2 separate regions of the Homo sapiens genome follow, and region 1 is linked to region 2. A link means that fine-mapping ties the variant in region 2 to the expression of a gene that starts in the linked region. Tissue or cell type: thyroid. Region 2 holds a variant in brackets; the other region holds the start of a gene. All regions are shown on one strand. Distances are from middle to middle.

Evidence for each region. PIP is the estimated chance that this variant, and not a neighbour inherited with it, causes the effect.
Region 1: CEP135 starts here. The variant in region 2 is fine-mapped to the expression of CEP135 in thyroid (GTEx, PIP 0.96).

The regions. Positions count from the first base shown.
Region 1 is chr4:55,944,355-55,952,541 of GRCh38, forward strand. It overlaps CEP135 (centrosomal protein 135), which reads left to right and starts at 4,591. Exons shown (of 26, transcript NM_025009.5): 1 at 4,591-4,705; 2 at 7,732-7,889. The coding sequence starts at 7,777. EXOC1-AS1 (EXOC1 antisense RNA 1) reads right to left here and starts at 3,658. Exons shown (of 5, transcript XR_941069.4): 1 at 3,486-3,658. It overlaps LOC124900705 (a long non-coding RNA gene), which reads right to left. Exons shown (of 3, transcript XR_007058124.1): 3 at 8,037-8,117. RefSeq lists enhancers at 3,400-3,549, 4,168-5,132 and silencers at 4,347-4,486, 4,537-4,996.
Region 2 is chr4:55,140,233-55,148,419 of GRCh38, forward strand. No RefSeq gene overlaps it. Among named protein-coding and RNA genes, the nearest start is that of KDR, 19 kb to the left of the region's middle. The variant A/T (reference allele first, on the strand shown) is at 3,952.

The DNA.
Region 1 (8,187 bases), 800 kb after region 2:
TTCCCCTTTTCCTTCCTCCAGTTCATGATTGTTGTACACCATAAAGATGGTGTCAAGGAACTGGTTTTGTCTATGGCCCCCTTTGCAGCTTCTGGAGCTTATGTCTAATGTCTGGGGTAGAGTGACTAATGAAATGTTGTGCCATTAATATCTTGCCTTCAGGAGAAGCAGGATCTAAGTTTGTATATATTTTAAAGGCTTCTTCTAGTCTACTGTAAAACATGGTTGGATTCTCTTCTTTCCCCTGAGTAATCTCCTTAAACTTATCATAGTTTACTCCCTTTGTTACACCTTTTTTCATTCCCCTCAGGGGTGCCTCAAGAAATTTAGTTTGATTATTCATTCTCATGGGGGTATTATATTTCCAAATGGGTTCAGTAGTAGGGACTGTATCTGCTCCCGATCTGTTGCCCTGCAGGCTACATGCAAAATGTTCATCAGTGTCCTGGCGAGCAGCCTCAAATATTCATTCCTTTTCCAGAGGTGTGCAACAGGTGGCCAAAATGAATTGCATGTCTCTCCAAGAAAGGTTGAAAGCCAAAGTCAAAGTCTGGAACCCAACAGCAAATTTCTGAGTAACTGCCCAGTTTTTCCTTACATTGTTGGATATCAGTTATTAAGAAGGAGACCTGTACCCTGATGGGACCCTCAGTTCCTGCCACCTCTCTGAGAGGTAGCAGGACAGGTGGTGTCATTGAATATGGTGTTCCTAAGCTAGTATGGGGAGGGATCGCTAGGACCCGTGACTCTTGTCCTTCTTTTGAAGCTTCAAGTGCACTTGGACCTGGATTATAGGAAGGTGGCTATTGTTCACCCTGACACATATGTACCCCTTGCAAGAGGGGGTTATCTACAGTATTCGGCTCAGTTTTAGGAGTTTCTTTCTGTGGAGAAGTGCTGGGAGCTTTGAAAATGGTAGGCTTTTGGTATAGGGCCATGAAGGCTTGCACATATGGTATTTCTGACCATTTGCCTTGTCTCTTACAAAATAGTTCTAATTGGAGGATGGTGTCATAATTGAGACTTCCATTGACTGGCCATTGCTCTTGACTCCCTAGCTGAAATTGAGGCCAAAAGGTGTTACAATAAAATATTAGGCATTTCTTTCACAGGTTTTCAGGGTCAAATTGATTCCAATGATTGAAGATGCAGCCAAGAGGGGAGTCAGATAGGACTGAAGGAATGTTTCCCAACACTAATCTGTGGAAAAGAAGAAGGGAGTTGTCAGGCCTCTGAGCCCAAGCCAAGCCATTGAATCCCCTGTGACTTGCACATATATGCCCAGATGGCCCAAAGTAACTGAAGAATCACAAAAGAAGTGAAAATACCCTGCCCCGCCTTAACTGATGACATTCCACCACAAAAGAAGTGAAAATGGCCAGTCCTTGTCTTAAGTGATGACATTACCTTGTGAAAGTCCTTTTCCTGGCTCATCCTGGCTCAAAAAGCTCCCCCACTGAGCACCTTGCGACCCCCACTCCTGCCCACCACAGAATAACCCCTTTGACTGTAATTTTCCTTTACCTACCCAAATCCTATAAAACTGCCCCACCCCTATCTCCTTTCGCTGACTCTCTTTTCAGACTCAGCCTGCCTGCACCCAGGTGAAATAAACAGCCTTATTGCTCACACAAAACCTGTTTGGTGGTCTCTTCACATGGACGCGCATGAAAGGAGTCTCATAGGTTCATGAGTTTACATCTAGAGTCTCCCTTAAGGGTGTCCCCTATTGAAGGATCTGGACTGTAATTTTGGTCCATTTGGGCATCCCCCAAATGGACCTGTCCTCTGAGTGCCAGACGTCTCTAGCCATAGTGGGCACCAGTGCCATTTGAAGAAGGATCCTGCCATAATTGGTGACCTATGATAAGTTTCCCTTTAGTTCCTGGGTGTAACCTTTGGCTTCTAGTATCCCTGTAGCTGGCCAAAAGAGTTTCTTCCCAAATGGTTTCCTTAATTATTGTAGTAACTCTAGTTTGAAGGGCAAGGAATTGCAGACTGCCTAGTTTAAATTTGTTATTAGAGACTGGCCTCTCAATAAGATAGTAGAGTGCCCTCTGACTATATGAGATAAACCAGGCACAGTAATTTCCCCATGGATCCACTGTGCAATTTATGCAATGATCCGAGAGTCTCCACCAGGAGTTTTCTTTTAGCACCAGATGTACTAAACTAAAACAATCTAGATCTGATCCCTCACAGAAGAAGCAGGGTACTCTCATTATCCAGGTGGTTGGCCCTAATCTTCAGGCTGATGCTAATCCTTGGGCTCCCCACAGTCAGTTACCTGTTGTCCTGGCCCTTTGGGTTGGGGGGAGATCTCTAATTGGTCAAAACATGATATCCCAACACAAATGAAGAAAAGAAAAAAAAAATAAAACAAGCAGCAAGGCTGGGCACGGTGGCTGGCTGGGCATGGTGGCTCATGCCTGTAATACCAGGACTTCGGGAGGCCGAGGTGGGCGGATCACCTGAGGTCAGGAGTTCGAGACCACCCTGGCCAACATGGTGAAACTCTGTCTCTACTAAAAATACAAAAATTAGCCGGGCATGGTGGTGGGTGCCTGTAATCCCAGCTACTCAGGAGGCTGAGGCAGGAGAATTGCTTGATCCCGGGAGGTGAAGGTTGCAGTGAGCCGAGATCATGCCACTGCACTCCAGCCTGGGTGACAGAGCAAGACTCCATCTCAAAACAAAAACAAAAACAAAAACAAAAACAAAAACAAAAAAACAAGCAGCAAATAATGTAATAATTATAGCCACACAAACATGCACCTCACTGTTGCAGGGATTGATCTTGTACCCCGTGGGACCCATCTGTTCCATTCCCCAATCAGGTTATCCTGTCACGTTGAGGCAGGAATTTAAAGAAAGTTTTGTACTGCATTTACTCACTCTAAGGATAGTAACAAGCAAGGCTATAGGAAGGTCATGGTGACCTAGTCTAAGAAGCCAGGAATGAGCTCCAAACACCCCTGAGCAATGGTTAAGAAAAACAAATTCCTTTACTGTTTCTCTTTCCTTAGACCATTAATTATGATTATTTTTGCCTATGTTTAGAAAGATTTGTAGGTTCCTGTTTTTCTTTTGACGCAGCTGCAAGGCCACCAGCTAAGCAAAGCCAAAAGTTATGCAAATTTCAGCAGTTATGCTATAGATTACAAAACCTGTCACTGTGTGATTTACTGCCTTGGTTCTGCTTTTTTAATTTAGCCTATATAAGCCAAGCTCTGTCTTTGTTCAGGGCTCAGCTTTTTGGATGCAAATCCACGGAGCCAGTGCACACCTTAATAAAATCCTCCTGCTCCACCCATTGGTCTTTCTGGTCCTCTGCTTTCCCGCAACAATGGGAGTCTTCAAGCGGCCAGTGCCTTTTTCGTTCTTAACTGCCCAATCCGTGCCAGCAGAAGGCAGCTTTAAACCAAAGTGAAAGAGCTGAAGCAAAAAAGAAAGAAAATAAAAAGTCCCAGTTCTTCTGGGCTTACCTCCTGGCTGGCTCACCAAAATATGTTACCAGATTGGAAGTTGGGAGTTCCAGGTTCTTGGTGTTATGAACAAAGAATTGGATGAGACACACAAATAACCACCCCACAAGATTTATTAAGCAAAGAATATACCAGAGAGAGGAACGGGCTTATCTTCAAGTGGTGTCAGCCCTGGATTAATATAGCCTTTGTTCTTTTATACCCACTTCCTACACTTCTTTAACTCTAGGGAGGGGATTTCCTATAATTGTCATATCTGTTTTCTTGTTTTTTCTCTCTTAGTGCGCCTGCGTGAGCTTGCCATAATTTTAAGTGTATGTATGATAGGCATTCCATAGGTATGAGCTGGTCAGTCTTCTGACTTCCTTCCCTATTCTGCTGCCTCAGAAGGCCTATTTGGGAGAAAAGTAAACAGGAAAGAATGAAACTCCCTCTGACTGTCTGGGAAATTTTCAGGGGAGAAATGGAATTCTAGGATTTTACTATGTGTTTTCCATCTGTGAGTGGACTATAACGGTTTATTTCAATTTAATTCCACTCACAAATGTTTTGCTGAGTAGAATAGTCTCTGACTCAAGGAATTCACATTTGGGGGCGGCAGAGAGAGACGGATCAACAAATGATTGTATTTTGATGGATGAATTCTATGGTTCTACAGAGAGCCTGCGGGAGATACTATTGTGGGATAATTAATTGCATTGGGTGGTTGTCAGGGAAAGTTGCAGAGACAACGTGATATCTGCGTTTGGGGATTACGTGGTGAGCAGGCGTTCACCTTGCAGGTGAAGGCTACTCCGCTGCAGGGACCGGTACTGGGGCGGCGTTTGTTCCCCGCACGCAGTAGGTGATCCACACCTCCCGCCGACAGGAGGAAGAGGATGCCAGCTCAGGCACCAGCTGAGGTTTGGCATTTGCTGGCCGCGGGCGCCGACCTCCAGGGGGCGCCGTGGCCTCGCGCTGTCCGGGCCGTTGCATTTCCGGGCACTGGGGCTCCGCCATCGTCGCCAAGCGCGTCCCCGCCGCGAGCCGCTAATCGTCCGCCGCTCCCGTTACCGGGGCAACCGCGGCGCCTCCTCCGTGTCGGCCCCGATCGTCCCTCCGCGCCATTTTCAAACTGCTCTAGCGCCGGAGCCCGTGCCTGGACGGAAGGAGCTAGTGGGGGACTCGAGGCCTGAGGGCAATGCGGCTGGAGGCGGAGGCAACGGCGGCTGGAGCTGCCGGTGAGTCCGGATGTGGGAGCCAGAGGGCCAGCTGCGGCGGTGGTGGCGCCTTCGCCTTCTGGGCGGTACCCGCGGGCCGGGCTCGGGCACTGCCGGGAGGCCGCGCGGCCGCGGGAGGAAGTGAGGCCAGGCCGGGTCAGACCGGGCGGGGAGGGGCGCGGGGACTCTTCCCACCCACCCCGCTCCCACACCCCCTTCCCGTCAACACCCGACGGTAAAGTTGCAAACCGGAGATTGGGTGGAGGAGAGCTTGGGCCGACTCGTCAAGGAGCGTCTGTGTGGGCCGTGCAGACAGGCTTGCTGTTGACCAATGGATAGATTTAAACATTAAAATGCCTTCTCAGTGTAGCAGTCATCCATGCTCTTTGTAACAAAAATGTCGCAAAGCGTAGGACGACAGCCTTTAATTAACCTTTGCCCAGCTCCTTTGAAGCCTCTCCACTGCTTTCCAGCCTTTACTACTTTGAGTTCAATAAGAAAGGACTCTGAGATAACCACAGCTAACGGGTTTCTTTGTTGTCGTTTGGGGTTTCTTGTTTATCTTCTTAAGCCCTGTGCACACATACATACAGCATTAAATGTACTGGTTTTGAGACGCCAACCCCCAGAGTTAAGTAGATGGATACTTCTACACATATATGTATGGGGGACCCCCAAACCTAACCTTTTATGTTGCTTTGCTAGAAACTTAGAGTATAGCCACCATATTTGGATGGGGGTTATGGGGAAAGACAACAGTTCATGGGTGGGGACGGCCTAACATGTTTCTATCTGGGAGGATTTTAATCCGTCCTGTGTATTGAGGCCCTGGCCATGATTTATTGATTCATATTCATTCTCATTCTCTCCCCTCCAAAGCAGGATGTGAGGAGGTATTATCTCTGGGTAACTGGAGTTGGTAGCAAAGAGGGGAAATGTTTTGAGTGGTGCACCGCCTGTAAGTTTACACCCTGCTAGTAATACACCTGGATTTGTCAGGTGTATTTCTGATGTCTGCAGGAATTTCCCTAAAAACCCTGCATCACTTAGGTGTCTCTTGTGGAAAGAACCTAGGAAATCTATGAGGAAGCCATTCAAAAAAAGTTAACAAGAGCAAAGAGAAAGATATACAGAAAGGAGTGACCAAGGAGAGACTCAGGAGACCTGGTCTCTGATGACTGCCCACCTACTTTGTGGCCCCGTGGTTTTGGAAGAGTTACTTTCTTGAGGCAGCCTTTCCTCATGTTTAAGTAGGGATAATATCATTGGTCTTTCTCCCTCACAGGGTAGCTGTGAGGATCGACTTTTACATGTATGCTCATGCATGTAATGCATTTTTTATATATTGTGAAGAACAACAGATGTAAAACAAAATTTTTATTTGGCTTAGAAATACGAGTACCATGACTACAGTTAGTTAGCAAAGGTTAGAAAAGAGCAGAGTTTCTAAAGAAATGATCTTTGGGCTGAGCATATTGGCTCACACCTGTAAACCTAGCACTTTGGGAGGTAGAGGTGGGAGAATACCTTGAGCTCAGGAGTTGGAGACCAGCCTGGGCCACATAGCAAGACCCTGTCTCTAAAAAAGGTAACAATTAAAATAAAAAAAAAAAAGAAATGCTCTTTGGATAACTCCATTTTAGGGCAGATTGATAGGAATATATTCATAAATATTTAAAAAGACAAAGATAAAAACTTGAACAGAGGTACTTATGTGTGTCTTTTTTTTTAATTGAAGTGAAATTTACATGATGAAATGCATAGAGTTTAAGTGTACTATTTGAAAAGTAAATTCTCTAAATGTATACACTTGTGTAACCACTACCCCAATCAATGTAATATTTTCATTACCCTAAAAAGTTGTGTCTTAACTCTTAACGGGCAATCTGCAGCCCGCCTCACCTCCCCAGACAACTCTTGTTTTAATTTCTGGCCCCATAGTTTTAATTTTACTTGTTCATCAACTTCATGTAAATGGAGTCATACAGTATTTGTCTGGTTTCTTTTGCTCAAATAATGTTTTTGAGATTCATCCATGCTGTTGATGTGTATCAGTAGTTCCTTTTATCCCTTAGTATTGCACTGTATAAATATATCATACTTTACCCCTTCTGCTGTTGATGGGGGTTTAGGTTGTTTCCAGTTTGGGGCTACTATGAGTAAAGCTGTGAACATTCTTGTAGAGTATTTTTGTGAATATTTTTTATTTCTATAAATACCTGGGAATAAAATCACAGGGTTATAGTCCAGAAGTATGTTTAACTTTATAAAAAAACTGCCAGACTTTTTCCAAAGTGATTTTACATTCCTGTCAGCAATGTGTGAAGATTCCAGTTGCTCCAGATCTTTGTCGACATTTGCTATTGTCGGTCCTTGTAATTTTAGTCATTCTAGTTTGGGAGAAAATGTACCTTGTTGTTTTAATTTGTATTTCCATGTTGACTACTGTTGAGCACCATTTCATATCATCATTCCCATTCAGACACCTATGCGAGGTGTCTGTTCGAATCTTTAGCGCAACTAAATTACAGTTTTAGCCCAAATTAATGTTCTTATTGGGATGTTTGTCTTATTATTGAGTTGTAAGAATTCCTTTTATATTCCCTATACAAATCCTTTGTCAGATATTGTGAATATTTTCTCCCACTCTTTGGTTTGCCTTCTCTATTTTAATTGAGTATTTTGATGAGCAGACATTTTAAATTTTGATGAAGTCCAATTTATCAAATTTATCTTTTATGTTTAGTGCTTTTAAAAGAGGCCTCTCTGAGAAGTCTCTGCCTACTTCAGGCTTAGGAAAAATCTTTGTTTTCTCCTAGAAGCTTTAGGATTTTAACTTTTACATTTAGTTGTATGAGGAAGTATTTATTTTAATGCAGTAACAGGAATATCATAAGCATTGGCTTTAAATCTGAATTTTCCAGAAGGCTACCTACCTGAAGAAAAACAAAAAATAATTGCTTCATATTAAAATAATTTTTTCTTCTTATTGTGAAACAACAATCATAGCTATAATAAGATAATGATGTTTCATTCTTTTCTCTCAGGACTTTAATTTTTGGAAGTGAATAAAACTTGTTTTAGAAGACGAGATGACTACAGCTGTAGAGAGAAAGTATATTAATATTAGGAAAAGGCTGGATCAGCTGGGATACCGCCAGACTCTGACAGTGGAGTGTTTACCTTTGGTAGAAAAACTTTTCAGGTAAAGACAAAAATACAGTTTTCAACCTTTATGATCCCTAACCACTTACCTCATTTCTGATTGAACTTCATGCTTTGGTAAAGAAAAGGGTAGCTTTCCGGAAAGGCTTTCAATCATGAAGCTTATCTGTTTTTTCCCTGTCCTCAATCCAGGCCTTCCACACGGCAGAACTCTAAAGGCCACCACTCACGCTGTACTGTTCAAAGTCAACATTTCTGGGGGTTTTCTCTGTGAATGGAATTACAGTTTTTTGGGTTTCTGATATAATTGAGAGACACTTTTCCCTTAAGTTCTTTTT
Region 2 (8,187 bases):
GAGTTTATTACAATTTCCGTCATTAGTGTTTTATAGTTTTCAACATCCAAATCCTGACCATATTTTTATAGATGTATCCCAAAGTATTTCATATTCTTTGATGTCATTGTAAATGGTACCATTTTTAAGTTTTAATCTCCAATTGTTTTTTGCTATTATATAGAAATATAATCAATTTTTATATTGTCCTTGTAACCTGTGCCCTTGCTAATCTCACATATTAGTTCTAGTAGGTTTTGATAGATTTGGAGATTTTCTATGTAGATGATAATGTTACCATTAATAAAGACAGTTTTAGTTCTTCCTTTCCAATCTGTATGCCTTTTATTTATTTGTTGGCTTGTTGCATAGACTAGGATCTCTAATATAATGTTGAATAGAGGTAATGAGAATGTGCATCCTTGTCCCATATCCAAGCTTGAGAAGAAAGTATGTAGTTTTTCATCATTAAGTATGATGTTTTAGGTTTTCCATAGATACTTTTTATCAGGCTGAGGAAGTTCCCTTCTATTTCTAACTTATTGGAATTTATGATGAATAGATGTTGAATTTAGTCAAATGTTTTTTCTGACTCTATTGAAATAATAATATGGTTGTTCTTCTTTAGTCTGCTGCTATGTCAAATTGCATTGATTGATTTTTGAATGTTGAGCCAAACTTGCATTCCTGGCAAAATAACCACTTAGATATAATGTGCTTTCTTTTATTTTTTAATATATGGCTAGATTCAATTTGCCAATGTTTTGTTAAAAATTTTTGAACCTATATTAATGAGGGATATTAGTCTTCAGTTTTTTTTTTCTGTTTCTGTTTTGTTATCTTGACAATGATAGCCTCATAAAATTAGTTAAGAAGTATTCTCTTCTATTTGCTGAACCATAGATATTTGCAGGTAAAATGATATTATCTTGGACTTGATTCAAATTATTTTGGATGGATAGAGGGATGGATGTGAATATACATGATACAGGATAGTCCAGGAGTTTATAATTATTGAAGATTAGCAATGATTACGTAAGGATGTACGACACTTTTCTCTGTGCCTCTGTATATGCATGACATTTTTGATAATAAAATGTTTTCTTTCTTTTTTTTCTTTTTTTGAAACAGAATATTGCCCGGTCGCTCAGGCTGAAGTGCAGTGGGCATGATCTCAGCTAATTTTTATGTTTTAGTAAAGATGGGTTTCACCATGTTGTCCAGGCTCATCTCAAACTCCTGACCTCAAGTGATTCACCCTCCTCAGCCTCCCAAAGTATTTGGAGTACAGGCGTGAGCCACCGTGGCTGACCAAATATTTTCTTTAAAAATAAACCAGTGTCTTTTCCACAGCTCTATCCTAGTTTCCAATTAGTATGTGAGTAGAGGAGAGCATCTCAAAAGTTCAGCAAAGGGAGAAGTAGAGATTTAGACAGAGTTCATAATTCTTTTAATGACTGTACTGGTCATTAGCGTCCAAATGTGTATTAAGAGGAGGGTAGGATACACTGAGTACAGCTTCAATTCAAAGGTAGGATTTAAGACCATCTTAATTTCTTGGCTAGTTCTTCAACTTAGCTTTGAAAAACTATCCTGTAATGCAATGGTTGTCAAACTTTAATGTGCATGAGAGAGCTTTTTAAAACACAGTTTGCTGGCTGGGTGCGGTAGCTCACATCTGTAATCTCAGCACATTGGGAGGCCGAGGCGGGCAGATCACCTGAGGTCAGAAGTTCAAGACCAGCCTGGTCAACATGGTGAAACCCTGTCTCTATTAAAAATACAACAATTACCTGGGCATGATGGTGGGCACCTGCAATCCCAGCTACTTAGGAGGCTGAGGCAGAAGAATCGCTTGAATCCAGGAGACAGAGGTTGCAGTGAGCTGAGATAGCGCCACTGCACTGCAGCCTGGGCGACAGAGCAAGACTCTTTCTCATAAAATAAAATAAAATAAAATAAAATAAAATAAAATAAAATAAAATAAAACACACATTGCTTAGGACAGTAAAACTCTTTTGTATGATATTACAATAATGGATTCATGTTATACACTTATCAAAACCTATAGCATATACAACACCAAGAGTGAACCCTCATGTAAATTTTGGAATTTGGATAATAATGATGTGTCAGTGTAGGTTTATCAACTGTAACAAATGTACCATTTTGGTGCAGGATATTGACGGTGGGGAAGCCATGCATGTGTGGAACAAGGAGTGTATGCCAACTCTGTACTTTTCACTCAATTTTGCTGTGAACCTAAAACAGCTCTAAAATATAAAGTCTATTTAAAAGAGCAGAACAAAAACAAAAAACACATTGTTGGACTCCATCTTTAGAGTTTCTGATTCAGTAGGCTTGAGGTGGAGCCTACAATTCTGCCTTTCTAATGAGTTTCCAGGTAATAGTTATGATGTTGGTCCATCAGCCACCAAGAACTTCTATTCTAGTATAATGCTTTTGATCTCAGAAATTTAAGCCTTCTCACAATTTAAACTCGGGGTTCAATCCAAATAGAATAGTATTTCATTCACAAGCTACATTGACTCTGAATTCTGTTAGATTCATTTTAGCAAACTTTGCTTGGGCATCGACTATGTACCAAGGCTCTTGTTAACCTCTATAGATACAAGGACACATATTAATGTACTGTCCCTGCCATTAAAGATTTTATAGTCTGATGTTCTAATCTTCAGTCTTGTTTAGTAATTTTAGAAAATATTTATGTTCAGTTCTAATCTCTTTCACTTCTAATGGATTATTTTTAACTTTGCTTCTTTAAAACAAATTAACCATTGAGTTCAGCTTATAGTATAAAGCATTATGATTTTTTTCTACATCTTGCTCCATAATATAATTCAGGTCTTCCCAAGTGTCCCCCAGAAGGGACCTGAGAAATCATCCCATTCATTCACTTATTCCCATTTTACAGTTAAGGAAAGAGAGGCTCAGAAAAGGCAACTTTTCCAGGTCACTGAGCTACTAAGTAAGAGGGCTGGAACTAAATTCAAGTTGTAGGACCACTAATGCTGTGCTCTTTCTGTGACATCAGGCCTCATGACTTAAATTCCAACATCAAAGAAAATTATGGATCCCCACATCTAGAAAATATTACAAATTTCCGTAGAATTTCACATTTAAATTAAATTATTGAAGATCTTTGTGAATTAAAGAAGAAAAGGTGGGGGAAAAGATGAAGGGATTGGGTGGTGGTGGTAGAAGTCATAATAGTAGTAGTATAGTAGTCATAACTTTCCATGTGTTACATAGTGTGACTTTCTTAGAATATCCACTCTTCTCAATAACTCTTTGAAGTATGTACAATTATTATATCCATTTTACAGATGAGGAAACTGAAGCACAAGAAGTTTAGTAATTTGCCCAAAGAGACATGGCTTTTCAATTCAATTTCATTTAGTAGTCTTAGGTACACTTAATCCCCCAAATGTAACCAAATTCTGCTAGGAGGGAGGTGTAAGTAATATTGAATCATTGTGTAGAGTTTTGTATAGTTCTTCAAAGCACCAAATCTCTTTTAGATAGCTTAGCAAATCTTATTGAGGTAGTTGAAACATAAGGAAATTTAAAATTCTTTCTTCTGCACCCGTTAAAAATTTATTTAACAGTTCTATTTTTCTTAACAGGTCAAATATTAAATAAAAATTGTTCTTTCAGCAATTGGATTCATGAACAGGTCAAAAGGCTTCATTGGAGTGGATGATGCAGAAGGTACACATGCATTCACACACACGTAGACACACACACACCCTCATTCAGTCTCATACATAAACAAACATTACCTTATACCCTAGGGGAATATTTTTAGCTATCTTTAGCCAAACTGGTTTCACTTGGCAGACTGCAACCCCCTACAGGTGGCACCTATTTTCTGTGAAGTGTTTCCTTTTCCCAGAACTGAGACATCGGCACCACATACCTCCTTGCTCTTCTCAACATCTGTTTCTACTT[A/T]TGTGCCAGATAGGGCCACCTGAGCTGTGAAGGGAAACAAAACAAAGGTTCATGGCTATTGTCTATCAAAATGTCATGTTTTGGTCCACCCAGATTGGGAAACTCGGTTGGAATGCCAAGCACTGGTCTACTGTAAGAAGGGGCTATGGGAAAAAAATATTTTCCTTATTCAACTGTTCGTGTTCATTAGGAAATAAGGTAGGGCTCTAGACCTTGGAGTCTAGGGAAACCAATTCATAGAGAGATTAATCATTCGCTATCACTTCTAAGGCATTGCATATTGCTGCACAGATGGTACAAAGAATATAGAAAGGCATAAAACTTACCCTGAAGAGGTTTATAAGATTAGGAACTCAGAATTGGTACATTAGAAAATAAGTATGTAAAGCTAGATAGTGTATCCAATTTACAGGGCAAGCAATTAAGTATCATAGGCATTCCTTGGAAGGAGTGATAACCAAGAACTGGGGTGATAGGAGAACCTCAGTGGTGATGAAACTTGAAAAAAGTAACTGATTTCATTGTCATGACAAATGAAATCATTTTATTTTAAAAGATTACCAGGATGAAAATGACCAAGTCATAACTCTCCTAAGACCCGAATCCCATGACACCCAAGAAAATCTGTGCCCGTGTTTCCTAAATGTGTTTATTTTCTGCTTCTCTTATTTTCCTATAGTCAACATTCAATTTATCCGCAGTTGAGGATAGAGACTGGCAAGGATAAATCTAGGGATATACCCTACCCTCCATTTTTGCCTTCAGGTTTCATTTCTCAAATGAAAGTTCTCAAAATTTTTACTAGAGTCGAGTAACATGCATCCAAATGTAATTACTTGAATATATACATGCGCAAGTCTACAAGTTGCCTGTAATGAGGATATTCATTGCAAAATTAGATGATGAAAATGTTAAAAAATGGAAACAACCTTAATACCTACCAGTAGGGAGGAGTTGCATATATTGCTCATGGAAAAAAAGCAAGCTGCCAAGCAGTAATGTCTAGTATGATTCCATTTCATTAAAACAACAATCAAAAAGAATACCTGTACCCTGTGCATGTACCTCATGCATAAACCAATTCTGGGAGGCAATATGAGAAATTGTTAATAATGCTAATATCTGTGGGACTGGCATTTGGCATTTCATTTTTTTACTTTATTTCTTCTTTGCTGATCAAGATTTTAAAATGTATACTACATTTATAATGTTTAAAAATAGTTTAATATACATGTATATATATGTAATATTTAAATTTTTGATTTTCAGATCTTCTGTTTAAACAACAAATGACCTGGAGACTCAAAGTGAAGCAGACTCAACAAAAGGTTCAGAAAAGTCAACCATTAAGCAGAGGAATGGCCACTAGGCACAGGTTTTTTTAAATTTAATGGTATTGGTCATGGCCTCACAGAAAACAAAATTTTCTTCAAGCAATAGATGATAAATATTTTGGGCTTTTGGTACTAATAAGTAGTTCAAAGCCTCAGTAGCTTGAATTTCAAAACTGAACAGGGCTCATGGAACTACTCAAAAATCGTGAGAGGCTGATGGTTTAAGAAGTGGGAAAGACATTGCTAAGATGATCTGTTTGCTGATGGCATTCTGTGACAGCTGCCAGCCTCAAGCAAGATTGAAGAATGCTAGATGTTGAAGTGGCCTTTCTTCTCCTTTGCCTGAAGAGCTCTGAGCAAGGCAGCCAGATGACCATGAACTCTGTGTTTGGGATCTGGAGATAAGTGGGAGAGGCTCAGAGCATCCTGCTGATGCACCAGTTCAGGGAAAGTTAGTTGACGCAACCCTTTGCCTTCCGCTTGGCTTGAATAAAATCAGGAAAAGTGGCTTAGACTCAGTACTTTCTCTGCCCTCCTCAGGGTCCACATGTTTCCTGACCCTTAACCTTTTTTTCTGTTCAGGGGCAGTCACCTGCACATGAGCTTAGCTGACAATGACATCCTGCCCATCTCAATGTCCTGTACCCATCCTTGTGGTTCACTGGGCTGCCCATGTCTTCTGCAGACAACTCGCTTCATGTCTAGCCATTGTCTGACCTAACCATTCAGCCAAGATGGTTTTCTTATTTAACAGGATTGGAGACCTTTGAAATGGGCAAGTTGGAGGGAGTCCCCGTAAAAACCAACTAGCTAATTTACAAAAACACAACCCTCAAGAAATAAATTGAACCGCCTTTTTTTTTTTCTTTTTTTTTTTTCTGATTCCTGTTAAGGAGGGTATAATGGCCAAACCTTTTAGGCTGATGATAAAACACCTGCTCAACACTAACTGTCCTTTTTTTCTTTCCTTTTAGAAAAATATATACAAATTTTGGAGCTCTAGTGACAGAAATGGATCAACTCTGTGTGTCCATTTTTCTGGTTACATCCTATAGGAAGTAAATGTACATTATAAATGATGGAACTCCCAATTATGATATAGTGGAGAAAGCACTGAGCTGAGGGTTAGAAAACCTGATTTTTATATCAATTCGGCCACTAAATACTCTGGACCCTGTTTCTTCATTAGCAAAATAAAGGAGAAGATTGTTGTCTTCTTGTTATGAAATGCTTTGCTTCCACGGATCAGCAGCAAGTCAGAGGCAGGAATCATACTCAGTTGCATTTTCTGCTCCATCTGGAGATCTACATTCAGTTTGTCACCTATCACAAGTGTCCTGGAATGAGGCAAATTCCCTCATTCTGGTAAATAATCAGAACCAGTTTTTTTGTCATGTTTGCTACTCTCTGAGAAACTTAGCGTGTTTTCAGAAATTATATTGTACGGTTAATTTTCCCCATGGTAGCCTGAGAACTTTAGTGTGGAAGAAGAGAAAAAAAAACAAGGAAGGAAGGAAGCAAGGAAGGAAGGGAGGGAGGAAGGAAGGGAGGGAGGAAGGAAGGGTGATAGATAGATGATGGACAATACATAAATGACAGGTAGGTAGGTGGATGAATAGACGATGGATGGATGGATGGATGGATGGATGGATGGATGGATGGATGGATGGATGGATGGATGAATAGACGGATGGATACGTGAATACATAGATAGATGGAATCAAGTTTCTAAGCATGGTCTCTAGAGCCAGACTACCTTGGTTCAAATCACAGTACTACAACTTTCTGACTGAATCACCTCAAATTATGTCACCTATTTGTGACTCAGTTAACTTAATGGAAATGGTAAAATTCAGAAAGCAATATTTACCTCATAAGGTGGTTGTCAAGATTAAGTAGGATTATTTATGTAAAGCTTTCAGCATAGTGCTGGATGTATAGTAAGTGCTCCATAAATATTAATTATTATTATAATTATTATTTAGGAAATAGTATGTATGTTTCCCTTTCACCATCATTCCAACCACCAATCCCCCTGACCCCACACACACACCCAGAGGTAACCACTGCTAGTGGTTTGGTGCATGTTTTCTCTTACATACATAGATATATACACATGCTCATGCACTCACAAACACACACTCCTTACAATTTTTGTGTTACTGTTCCCAAAAGTGGGTTATATATCATATATTGTTCTGAGATGATTGTTTCCTTTTGCTTAGCAATATGCCTTATAGAGCTTTGTATGTCATGTATAGACATTAATTCATACACCAAAATACACTAAATCATGCCTCTATTGATGAACAGTTAAGCGGTTTCAAATTTTTCAATGGATAGCCTTTAATATGTCTTTTTTCTCCTATGTAACTATTTCTATAAGATTGATTCCTATCTTGCCGAGTTATAATATATGTGCACTCAAATATCTTATATGTATCCTGCCCTATTATCCTCTAAAAGGATATTCTGAATTTATATACTCCCATTGACAATTTATGAGTCTGTTTTTGCACCCTTTTACTCTTATGGAATACTGTTAATATTTTTAAATCTGTAAATTTTATGAGCAAAATGTGCTACTTTATTTTAATTTATAATTCTCTAATTATTTATTTATTTGTTCATTGAAATTGACCCAGGCTTTTTGTAGACATTTACTGTGTTTTCCTTCCCCCAATCCAAACATTTATCTGAAAATGTTGCCAAAAAGTGTGAACAAGGCACTGCACAATGCCCAGCTGATAGGATAATCACTATTCTGGGTATCTCCTTCCTTGTGTTACAGCCAAGAAGGTTGGAAAAAAAGAGAGAAGTTTTCCATTAGAGAAGTTACATCCTTATTCTCTTTATTTATTTCTTTTGTGTTCTTTCAATAGTTTGACTTGGAAATCCAACA